Linked DNA regions of Homo sapiens. The protein of the gene in region 3 purifies or fractionates together with the protein of the main gene of each other region. This does not show direct contact. Each region holds a gene or a part of one and is shown on either strand. Other genes may lie near its edges.

What was found.
Region 1: the proteins of TIMM23 (region 3) and SLC2A8 purify together in Homo sapiens (affinity purification with mass spectrometry; one large-scale study listed by BioGRID and IntAct). This does not show direct contact.
Region 2: the proteins of TIMM23 (region 3) and ATP12A purify together in Homo sapiens (affinity purification with mass spectrometry; one large-scale study listed by BioGRID and IntAct). This does not show direct contact.

What each region holds. Positions count from the first base shown.
Region 1 is NC_000009.12:127,403,669-127,407,168, reverse strand, and holds part of SLC2A8 (solute carrier family 2, facilitated glucose transporter member 8), read right to left. Parts: coding exon 3,366-3,500; intron 3,211-3,365; coding exon 3,102-3,210; intron 2,352-3,101; coding exon 2,178-2,351; intron 1,750-2,177; coding exon 1,604-1,749; intron 58-1,603; coding exon 1-57.
Region 2 is NC_000013.11:24,686,703-24,690,424, reverse strand, and holds part of ATP12A (potassium-transporting ATPase alpha chain 2), read right to left. Parts: intron 2,107-3,722; coding exon 1,903-2,106; intron 1,164-1,902; coding exon 1,050-1,163; intron 88-1,049; coding exon 1-87. UniProt on the Homo sapiens protein: The catalytic subunit of a H(+)/K(+) ATPase and/or Na(+)/K(+) ATPase pump which transports K(+) ions in exchange for Na(+) and/or H(+) ions across the apical membrane of epithelial cells.
Region 3 is NC_000010.11:45,978,918-45,982,639, reverse strand, and holds part of TIMM23 (mitochondrial import inner membrane translocase subunit Tim23), read right to left. Parts: intron 118-3,722; coding exon 24-117; intron 1-23. UniProt on the Homo sapiens protein: Essential component of the TIM23 complex, a complex that mediates the translocation of transit peptide-containing proteins across the mitochondrial inner membrane.

The DNA.
Region 1 (3,500 bases), on a different chromosome or scaffold from region 3:
ACTGAAGATGCAGAAAGCGGAGGCAAGCCAGAAGGCTCCATAGGGCCTGAGGACCTCCTGCAGAGAGAGGAAAGGCCATGGGTGGACGCGGGGAGAGATCAGGAAGCCCCACGCGATCACTGAGACAGCTCTGCCACCAGGGGGTCCAGTCCCCTGACCCCAGCCTGCCCTGCCCAAGGCCACACCCATTTTATCTCCACCCAGCTCTGGGACATGGAGGATAGTCTGGCATCCAGTCTGGTGGCTTGGGCCGAGCACTGTCCAAGATACCGAGGTCGTATGGCTGGGGAAACTGAGGCTCACAGCAATGAAGTGACTGCCTCAAGGCCAGAGACCCGCTATCCAGTGACAGCTGGGCTCCTGTTCCAGGTCTGACTCCAGGGCCCACAGACCAACCCTCCACCCTCAGCTTTGGCCCCACCCTGAGGCCCCCGGTGGGTTCTTTCATAGTGTGGTGGAAATGGGTGAGACAGGGCAAAGCGAGCATGGCCCCAGGAGCACATGGGGCCTTCAGTCAGAACCTGTCCCTGCCATCCACCACCACTGTGACCTCCCACGTGCCAGAACTAAAAAGGTGCTTCTCAGCTCCTGGTCCTCTGGGACCTGGCGATCTCTCCCTCCTCGAAGGCCTTCTCTTGGCCTCTTGGACATTTTCTCTCCTAAAAAAGGACTGTTAGGTCCTTTGTCACCTCCTTCTTGGCTTCTTTTCCTCCTTCCTTTGCTGCGCATCCCCTCCCAGCTGCAGCAAGTAATCTCCACCCCCAGGCATCGGCCTGGCCCCCTCGATGTGCTCCCCGGGCAGTCCTGCCTAAGCGGGTCCCAAGCTCTGCACAGACTCCAGGCTGGCCCCTCATGACCCGCCCCACCACATCCTAACCCAGCCCCACTGGGGTTCATTCTCCCACCACTGCCATGGCCTTTCCCGTCCTTGTCATAAAGGGGACCCTGTCCATCTTGTTCATTGCTCTCCCTGGCGCCTTGAATGGGCCTGGACATGGCACATGCCAGGAGACCTGGAGGGCACAAATGACTGAACAAACAACCAGATCATCTACCCCAGAACTGTCTCTCTGTTGGCTGGGAAGCCCCGGGACAGGGGCCACACCTGTGCCAGTCCATCCGTGAGAAGGCAGCAACAGGATGAACTGAATTAATGCTCCCATCCGTCTTAAGAGCAAGCTGCTGTTACTCTCCTCCAGTTTCAGCCAAAGAAGCGGGCTCAGAGAAGGTAAGCATCATACCCAAGGTCACACAGCAAGGAAGTAGCCAGGGTGGGGCTGCAGCCCAGCCCTGTCAACTCTTCCCATGTAAGACCTTAGGCTCAAGGCCCGCTTTCCTGACGTTCACTAAGGGGAGAGGCCAGCTGTGCTGTCTGACTGCCAAGACAGGCAGAGGACTCCCAAGGGGTCACAGCCTGGGTTCCCCATCTGGCCTAGCCCATCTGCCTCCACGTCGCCTTGCCCAAGATGGCCAGTGGCCCAGGCATGGTGGGGCTCAGGCTGCATGTAAGGCCACGACCCTGGGTCTTCTGCAATACAAGTGGTTTTAGAAAGTGCTTCTCGGCTGACTGCACGAACGCGGTGCTGGTGGAGCCTGCCCTCACCATGAGGCTGCTGAACTCCTTGGTCACGAGAAAGGCCATGAGCCAGTTGGTGAGGACGCAGATGCCTGTCGCCACGCCCTTGACATGCAGAGGGAAGATCTCTGACATGAGGAGCCAGGGGATGGGCCCCCAGCCCACCGCAAAGCCTGTGGGAGCGAGACAGGCAAGACAGGCATCAGGGTCCGCAGGGCTGGGCTCCTCAGCTTGCTGCAGAGCCAAGAGACCCAGCTTCCCAGCCTGTGGGGCTGTGGGGTCCCGGATCCCAGTGTGGTCCCACCAGCTCCATGCTTTCCTGCCAAGGCCTCGGCCAGCCTCTTCCCTCCTCAGGCACAGGCTCTGTCTCTGAGATGGGGTCACAACGGGGCCTGCTCGAGGGCTGCTCAGGGGATTAAGTGAAAGGAACGCAGAGGGGCCTAGTTCCACAGCTGCATGTGGTCAGAGCTAGAAATGCAGAGCTTGGAACTTACGAGAGGAGAGGTGAGGCTGGGGAAGACCCCACCTGCCGGGAGCCGCCACAGCAGGGCCGGGGGGATCACCTCCCACTCCTCGCCCAGCCTCCCACAGGCCCCCTTACCGGCGATGAAGAGGCACATGCTGCCCACGGCCAGCCAGGCCAGCCCCACGCTGGCATCAACAGGCTGTGCAGAGACAGGCGCCGAGATGGCCACGTGCGAGGAGTTGCCAGGGCCACCCTGGGTCAGCTTGAAGTAGGCGCCGAAGGCACTCGTGCTGAACACCATGACCACACCTGCAGGCGGGAGGGCGGCAGTGGGCGGGGCACCCGGGGAACGGCCCAGGGCGCAGCAGCATGGCCTGGATGCCTCTGAGAGGGGCAGGCCCGGCTCCCAGAGAACGGCCAGCTTGGTGTTCTGGCACCTTGGCCGCAGAAGCCCTGACTGGGTGGCAGCCACCCCGCCTTGGACCTCAGCGAACTGCAAAAAGTTCCCGGAGCAGACCCTCTGGGCCGAGGAAATGGGAGGTACCGGCACAGAAGCAGCAGCGAGTAACCCTCAGCCCCGACGGTCGTCTTCGCAGCAGCTGCTGGGTACCAAATGTCCGTGGGCCGCAGCTCTTGCTGAAGGCCTCACGTGGATCACCTCCCACTCCTCAAAATGGTGCTGAGGGAGGCACTGCCATTACCCCCACTTCCCAGAGGGGGAGACTGAGGCTCAGAGAGGTAAAGTCACTTGTCCAAAAGGACCCACAAACTCTTGAGTCACTTCACCTTCCTGGCCCTCAGTTTTCCCGTCATAAGCTGGGGCTGTGAGAGTGCCTTCTGGTGGGTTCACCACAGAGGTTAAAGGCGTGGTGTGGGAGTGCCACTGGCATGGACAGGCCTGCAGTGAGTGCTTGGTGACAAGCTGCTGTCAAATCATGGCCGCATTAGTCCATGATGTTTGTCATCACAAATGCTCCCTGTCCTCCTCCTGCAGTGTGGTGGCCTTGGCGAAGGCCCTCCCCCGCATGGCGGGGAGGCTGCACAGGGGTGAACCCTCACCTGACAAGACCAGGAGCAGCCTCCGCCCTGCTCTGTCCATGATGAGAGCCGCCACAGCTGTGAACAGCACCTGGATGACACCCACGACGACCGAGGCCAGGCTGCTGTCCTGGGGGAGACAGAGCCCAGGCAGGTCAGGTGGGCCAGCTGAGAGCTGGGTCCCTCCCTCTCCAGGCCTGTGCTGGATGGCTGGGCCCTGGGCTTGGGGAGGAAGCTCCATCTATGTGGGGGCTGGACGAGGCAGGCCAGGCAGGGCCCTTTTACCTTGAACTTGGCCTCTTCAAAGATGGTCTCTGCATAGAACATGACGGCGTTGACCCCCGACAGCTGCTGGAAGGCCATCAGGGAGACGCCGATGATGAAGGGCTTGTAGATGCCGGGCTGCCGCAGCAGGGCCAG
Region 2 (3,722 bases), on a different chromosome or scaffold from region 3:
TCCTCCTTTGACCTCCACAATGTCCCCCACCACCAGCTGCTCTGAAGGGATGGTCTTCTTCTCGGAATCTCGGATGACGAGAGCTTGCTGCAGAAAAAAACCATGACAGATGCCTCAGACCCTGGAAGGACACCGGCCCTCCCCCAAGTCTGTGCCGCACCGAACCCCAGGACAGAGGCCTTGGAACTTCCTGATCACTCTCACTGTTGAGTCCATGCTGTTATGCAGCCTGCACCTGGCCCTGTGGACACAGCATTGCTGCTGGAGCATGAGGCTGTCAGAACAGCAAGAATGAAACAGAAGACTGCTTCACCCGAGGCCTGAAGACTCTAAGAACTACTTTTTCTTGAGCTTATGGAGAGTTCTTGGAACAGAAGAGTCGCTGTTGGCCAGATCTGGCCAAGCCAGAGCCCTGGGCCTCCTAGAAAAGGAGACCACTAAGGGTGAGCAATCCTGGCTGGGCGTCTGGGCAGAACACTGAAGGTGGGGCTGGGGAGGCTGATAATCTTGCGAGTGTCAGGGAAATTTTAACGAGGTGATCTCCTGCTTCAAGCTTGGCAGGAGGCGTCTTTTCCACCCAGAATCTCTCCAGCCCACAGTTCTCTGGGCCAGAGACAGTGTGGACACCTGACAGGGGTTTTTGGGGAAGAAGGGAGCACTGGGCTTCCCCACCAAATGCATTCTGGGGCTCAGGAGCAAAAATGGTCACAGATAAACAATTGCAGGCTGGTCTCCTTGGCTGCCAGTGAAAGAACACTCCCTGACCTTCCACAGGTCCCTTCCAGAACCCAGAAGGACTATCCACAAACACTGAGGAGCAGGAACAGAAGATGCCTTGGGCTAACCAGCACTGCCCTGGGTGGTGCCTCATTTGACCATCAAAATCCTGTGAGGAACTGGGGTTCTGACAGATGGGTTAATTCGCCCACGATTGCTCCGACAGGGAAGGAAGTGGAAACCCGTAGCCCTCAGGGCCCTGTGCCCCTCCCAGCTGAGGCTTCCTCACCTGGGAGTCACCAGAGGCCAGAGGATAGGTGGCTGCCACTCACCTGAGGGATCATCTTATTGAAGCTGGACATGATGTTGGTGCTTTTTGCCTCTTGGTAATAAGCAAAGATCCCCGTTAAAATGACCACCAGACCAAGCACACAGCCCAAGTACACCTGGGTGAGAAGGAGGGCGTCAGTCAGAGAAACCAGCAGTGGGAAGCAGCCGGGCCCTGGGGCTAGAGCTCTCCACGGGAGGATGCAATGCTGGCAGTTACGCCCTGGTATAATTTACAGGCCATGGAATTCGCCCATGTTAAGTGCGCAACTTATTGATTTTTTTTTTTAAGTTTACAGAGCCATGACACCACCCTCCACCGCAGCCTCAGAGCATCTCCATCCTGCCTGGAGATCCCTCCGGCCCCTCTGCCGTCACTCCCTGCTCCTGTCCCATGCCCTGGCATCACCGATCTGGTTCCTGCTTCCAAGGATGTGCCTGTTCTGCACATTTCATGTCAATCCAATCCTATGACATGTAGCTTGTTGCCTCTGGCTTCTGTCTCTTGGCATCACGTTGGCCAATTCAGTTTTGTGGATTTGGTACTCATGTCTCGGCAGGCACAGCTGCTCTCCGTGTTAAAGGAAGAGGTTAGCTTGGGGGAGACAGAACCCCAAACTACTTCACATGGATGCAGATTTTCTCCCCCTTAAAAATTCAAGGTGTTTTGTGTATCCCTCTTCATGCCCACACTGCCTCTAGAAGATCAGAAAGCCAGATAGAATTTCTGTTTTACAGCTGGGAAAATGCCTGACTTTCCCACACCTAGGCAGTGGCATTCAGCCCCCAGCTGTGCCCCCAAGGCCTCACTGGATGGCTCTGCCAGCAAAACCAGGAGGGGACACCCCAGAGCCTTACGTTGTTCAGGGATGCAGACTTGTCGCTGGAGTACTGAATCCCATATGCAATCCAACAGAGAAAGGCGCCCACCCACAGGAGGATAGAGAACCCCCCCACCATCTGCTTGAGGAACTTGACGATCTCAGGCGTCTGCTTGGGAGGGGTGAGGGAGTTGGGCCCATCCCGGGCCAGGAGCTCGGCAGCTCTGGTGCTGGAGAGACCCTGGGAAAGCCAAACAAAGCACATGCACAACCAAAACAAATACGAATTAGACATTCCTCCTCCCTCAGGGGTTGGGCTGCATATTTTTGCAGCTTGGGGTGAGGCATTAACGTGGCCAAAGAAGGTCCCGAGAAAAGCAGACCGTGCCTCACTTCTCCAGCTGCCCAGCTTTTTTGAAAGACTATGTAATGCTTAATACCAGCCAGGCACTGTGCTCTGTATATTCACTCATTTAGTCTTTAAAATAACCCTTGAGGCAGGGGCCATTATTCCTCCCTCTCGTCATTCGCAGAGGTGGAATTTGAGGCACAGAGAAATTACGTAACCTGTCGAAGGGACCTGGCCTGTCAATGGTAGCGACCAGGTTCAACGTGGTGACTGGGTCCAGAGCCACTGCACTCTGCTCTGCTAAGGGGTTTTAGTTTCTTAGAGGTTTATCCGGTGAGAGGACTAATTTGATGAAGGAGGACTTGGAATGAAGAAGCTGCTCACCAGGGCTAAGGGCAATGCAGTAACTCCCCAGGAAATAGGGAAGCTTCTGGAATCCTGCACAGAGAGCATGTGGCTTTAGTTTCCATCCTTACGCCTGCTCCTTTTCCACCTTTCTACACATCCAGCCTAAGTTCTCATTCATCTTGACAGGCATAAATCCTACCCAAGCCCTGAGCCCATGTGAGCAGCCCCTGCCCTGGGGGGCCTGCCATCCGTGAGGCACCCTCACCTTTGAAACCCTACATGTTCACAGGAATTTCCCCCACAGACGATCTTTGGTGGACAAGTCTGTAGATACCTCTTCTCCCTAATTATGTTGTAAGCTACTTAAAGGGCAGGACTCTGTCTTGGTCTTTTTTTTTTGAGACAGAGTCTCGCTCTGTTGCCCAAGCTGGAGTGCACTGGTGCGATCTCGTCTCACTGCAACCTCCTCCTCCTGGGTTCAAGCGATTCTCCTGCCTCAGCCTCCCAAATAGCTGGGATTACAGGCAGCGGCCACCACACTTGGCTAATTTTTAAAATATTTTTAGTAGAGACAGGGTTTCACCACGTTGGCCAGGCTGGTTTCGAACTCCTGACCTCAAGTGATCTGCCCACCTTGGCCTCCCAAAGTGCTATGATTACAGACCTAAGCCACCATGACAGGCCAGTCTTGGTCATTTTTGTGTTCTCTCCCGGGTCTCATGCTTTTTCTGTGGTAGTGATTCAAATATCTGTTGAATGGCTAGATTCAGGCTCACCACCTCGATCCCATCTCCCTCCACTCCAATTCCTTTTCCAGAACCCCAGACTCATCTTTCTGAATAACTGTGGAACATTTCCTCAGGGGTGTTCCGGAGAGACTTCTCCTGGTATAACTCACAATAAGTTCATCATCGCCTCCACCCTCCTGCCTTCCCTGCTCTCACCTCCCTGCCCCCACCCCAGCCCATCACCCGACCGGCTCTCCTCCTCCTGCTGCTGTGACATGACTAGCGAGATGAGGGGCTCAATAAAAATCCCCGCAAGTCCTGCTGGTTGTGTCTCTCTGCAATTTCTTTCTTTCTTTCCTTCCTTCCTTCCTTCTTTCTTTCTTTCCTTCTTTTCTTTCGACAGAGTCTCGCTCTGTCGCCCAGGCTGGAGGG
Region 3 (3,722 bases):
AGAAAAAAGTATGTAACACTCACCTGTCATGCAACATCCTCCAATCGTAAAGAAGGCCAGCTCAAATCTGCCCCGGGTTTTATTAGCTCCGGTAGGTAAAATAAACTCATCTGTATCCTAAAAGGATAATAATGAAAACCAAGCTGAGTGTCCCTCAAGACACAAATCTTGTAAAGTTGCCTTTTTAACATTTCAAAGTAGTTTTTCACAGAAAATAAACCTTAAATTAACTCAAACCTATACTTAAACAAAAATAAAACTTTCTGCAGCAGTAACACCTAAATCAAAGTGAAATGAAATACGAAACATAGTTCTTAGAAGGGAGTCTCATTAAAGACTTTGTTTCCTTCAAAACGTAAATCTGATAGATTTGTGCAAAAGTGTTTAGAAAGGACAGCTCTAGAGAAAGGAACACTGAAAGCTATGAGAAGAACAGAACAGACAATCAGTCTGGAAGAAACAAATAACTTTCATTCTGTAGCAGCTATTTATTGTGCATTTTTCTATGTATAAAGCCAAATGTTCACAAACATGAGCAAAAACTAATAAAGTACAACAGTTTGGATCAATTATGCAAGGGCAAATGACCCCCTTTAATAATTCTTATCTGTTTAAGGAGTATATATTCCTTTGATACTCTCAGAAAGCTATAGACCCTATTTCTAGTAATTGCATACACAAAATGTGGCATGAACCCCTGGAAGGTCATCCAAAATACTAAGACTGAGAAATGACACTCTTAAGAGCAAAATATGGTTACCAATTTTGAAGAGTCAATGCACCTTTATGAAAAACACACTCAAAAAAACAAACAAAATTTTATCACCATGTTGGATTAAAAAAATAAAATCACACTCATTTTTGGCAAGCTTTCCAACCAAAGATGGTTAAAATAAGCCTCTAATGGCTAGGTCACACCCTTGGCAAAAAGACACATAGTGTGTTACATTTAACATAGTAAAGACCACTGACAATTAACATTCTCCTACATCCTTGTGGCAAATACTGAACGTTGATTCAGAAAATTGTATTCCTAATCAGAAAACTGTGGTTCTGCCTTGGTTTTTTCTTTCTGGCATGTGCACACATCCTCACCAAAAATTGCAAAAGTAAACAAACACATCCACTCTCATCACATAAGAATGGTCTGTTGGGCAATAATAAAATCTGAATAGATCCCATGTCATAATATAATTGTATAGAGTTTTATAAATTTTGGGTACTTCAACTTTTAAATAATGACTTAGTATTAAACTGCTTTTTGTTTGAGTTTTTAGAAATGCTAGATTCAATGTGGTAAGGTAAATAATTATTCTTCAGTCTCAGGCCATGGTTGCTGAGAAGAAAAAAAAAATTATCCTTCAATACAGAAACAGATTACTAATTAAGAATAGAAAACTTGGCCAGGCACGGTGCCTCCCGCCTGTAATCTCAGCGCTTTGGGAAGCCGAGTCGGGTGGACTGCCAGAGCTCAGGAGTTCGAGGCCACCCTGGGCAACATGGTGAAACCCCGTCTCTACTAAAATACAAAAAATTAGCTGGGCGTGGCAGTGTGCGCCTGTAGTCCCAGCTACTTGGGAGGCTGAGGCAGGAGAATTGCTTGAACCCGGGGGTGGAGGTTGCAGTGAGCTGAGATCACGCCACTGCACTCCAGCCTGGGTGACAGAGCGAGACTCCATCTCCAAAAAAAAAAAAGAAAAGAAAACTTAAAAAAAAAAAAAAGGCTGTGATGAACATTATCAAGCAAGCAAAAGTGCACGTTAGCACCAACTCATTCTCCTGCTAGTATCAACTGAAAAATATAACAAGGGTTGCAAGCAAACGTCCATCAATTCACACACAAACAAGGTTGTTATCAAAGTATGTTAATATATTGAATGTATAGAAGATTTACTAAAAACCTCTTGTTAAACCTGTTCTGCTGACACTCCAGGACACTAGTATTACTAAAATCCCAAGTACCAGAGCTTGCTGACATGGAAGATAAATCCAAGAATGGGTATCAATGTACTTGCTGGGGGAAAAGAAAAAACTTTTTTAATTTATAATTTTGCGTGTTTAACACTATGGATGTTAAAAATATTTAAATTTTCCTTATTTTTGTACCAGATGTTCACCTGGGCTAACAAAAAAATTTATTACTTGACACAATTTAAAAAAAAAAATCAATAAGGATACAAGAGTAGTGACAATACAAAAGCATTAGTAAGAGAAACTACAATACTGTATCAGATAAAAGTTGGCTAGGCACAGTAGCTCACGCTTGTAATCCCAGCACTTTGGGAGGCCAAGGTGGGAGGACTGCTTGAACCCAGGAGTTCCAGACCAGCCTGGACAACACAGTGAGACCCTGTGTCTACTATTAAACAAGAAAAAAAAAAAGTTGTTGCCAAAGTCACGACATGGTGAGTTGACAGGTACTATTTTCTTTAAGATGTCTCTAACCTTCAAAAGTATAAATAAAAGTTTTACAAAATGTAATTTCTATTATCTTTAAATTTAAGGTCTCCAGAATTATTTCCAATAACAGATGAGGTTTATAAAACACTTTTTAAAGTCTGAAGTCCCTCTAGAATTCCAATGGAAGATTAAATGTTCATGATGAAGAATGAATTCACAAGTTTTTGGGGGGATATGAAATATTTTATGTCTAACCTTAATAAGCCCCACCTAGCAATGCAGGGCCACAATGATATTGAATTTTAACTAGATCTAGAGTACAACCTCTAAGTGTAGATTCAACATTAAAGCAAAATACATGCAGCTAGTTTTGAAATTTTGAGTAAACTGACAAAGGAGTACTTTTAAAGTAAAAAAATCAATGAACACCCAATGTTAAAATATAACATTTGAAAAACATTTCAAAAATAATGAAGCTTTAAATTGGCAAGGTCCGAACCATCAACTTGCTTCAATTTGAACACTTAACGCAAACAAGAAATGCAGCAGCTGTCAGATGCCGTTAGTGATTCAACTGTGAAATAAAAGGTTCCAACCATAATGCTTAAAAAAAAAAAAAAAAAAAAAAAAAAAGGCCAGGCATGGTGGCTCATGCCTGTAATTCCAGCACTTTGGGAGGCCAAGGCAGAAGGACCACTTGAGGCCAGGAGTTAAGAGACCAGCCTGGGCAACCAAGTCAGATCACATCTCTACAAAGAATGTAAAAAAAAAAAGAATTAGCCAGGCATGGTGGTGTTCATCTGCAGCCCTAGCTATCTGGGAGGATGAGGCAGAAGGACCGCTTGAGCCTAGGAGTTTGAGGTTACAGTGAGCTATGATGCTGCTACTGCAACTCCAGTCTGGGAGACTTTGTCTCTTAGAAAAAAAAGAGAGAGAGAAAATGGAGTTACTGATCTGTATCTCATGTATCACACAATCCACTTACTTAGAGCGTACAATTCAGTGGTTTTTAGTATATTCAGAGTCGTGCAACCAAGACTACAATAAATTTTAAAGCATCTTCATCACCCCCCAAAAAAATCACATACCCATTAGCAGTCACTGCCCATTTACTCCTAACCCTTGGCAGCTACTAATCTACTTTCTTGTCCATATATTTGCCTATTCTGGACATTCCATATAAATGGAACCACACAATATGTGGTCTCTTGTGACTGGTTTCTTTCATTTAGGAAGTTTTAAAGGTTCATTTATATTGTAGCACAATTTAATAATTCTTTTTTTATTACCAAATAATATTCCATTGTATGGATATGCCACAC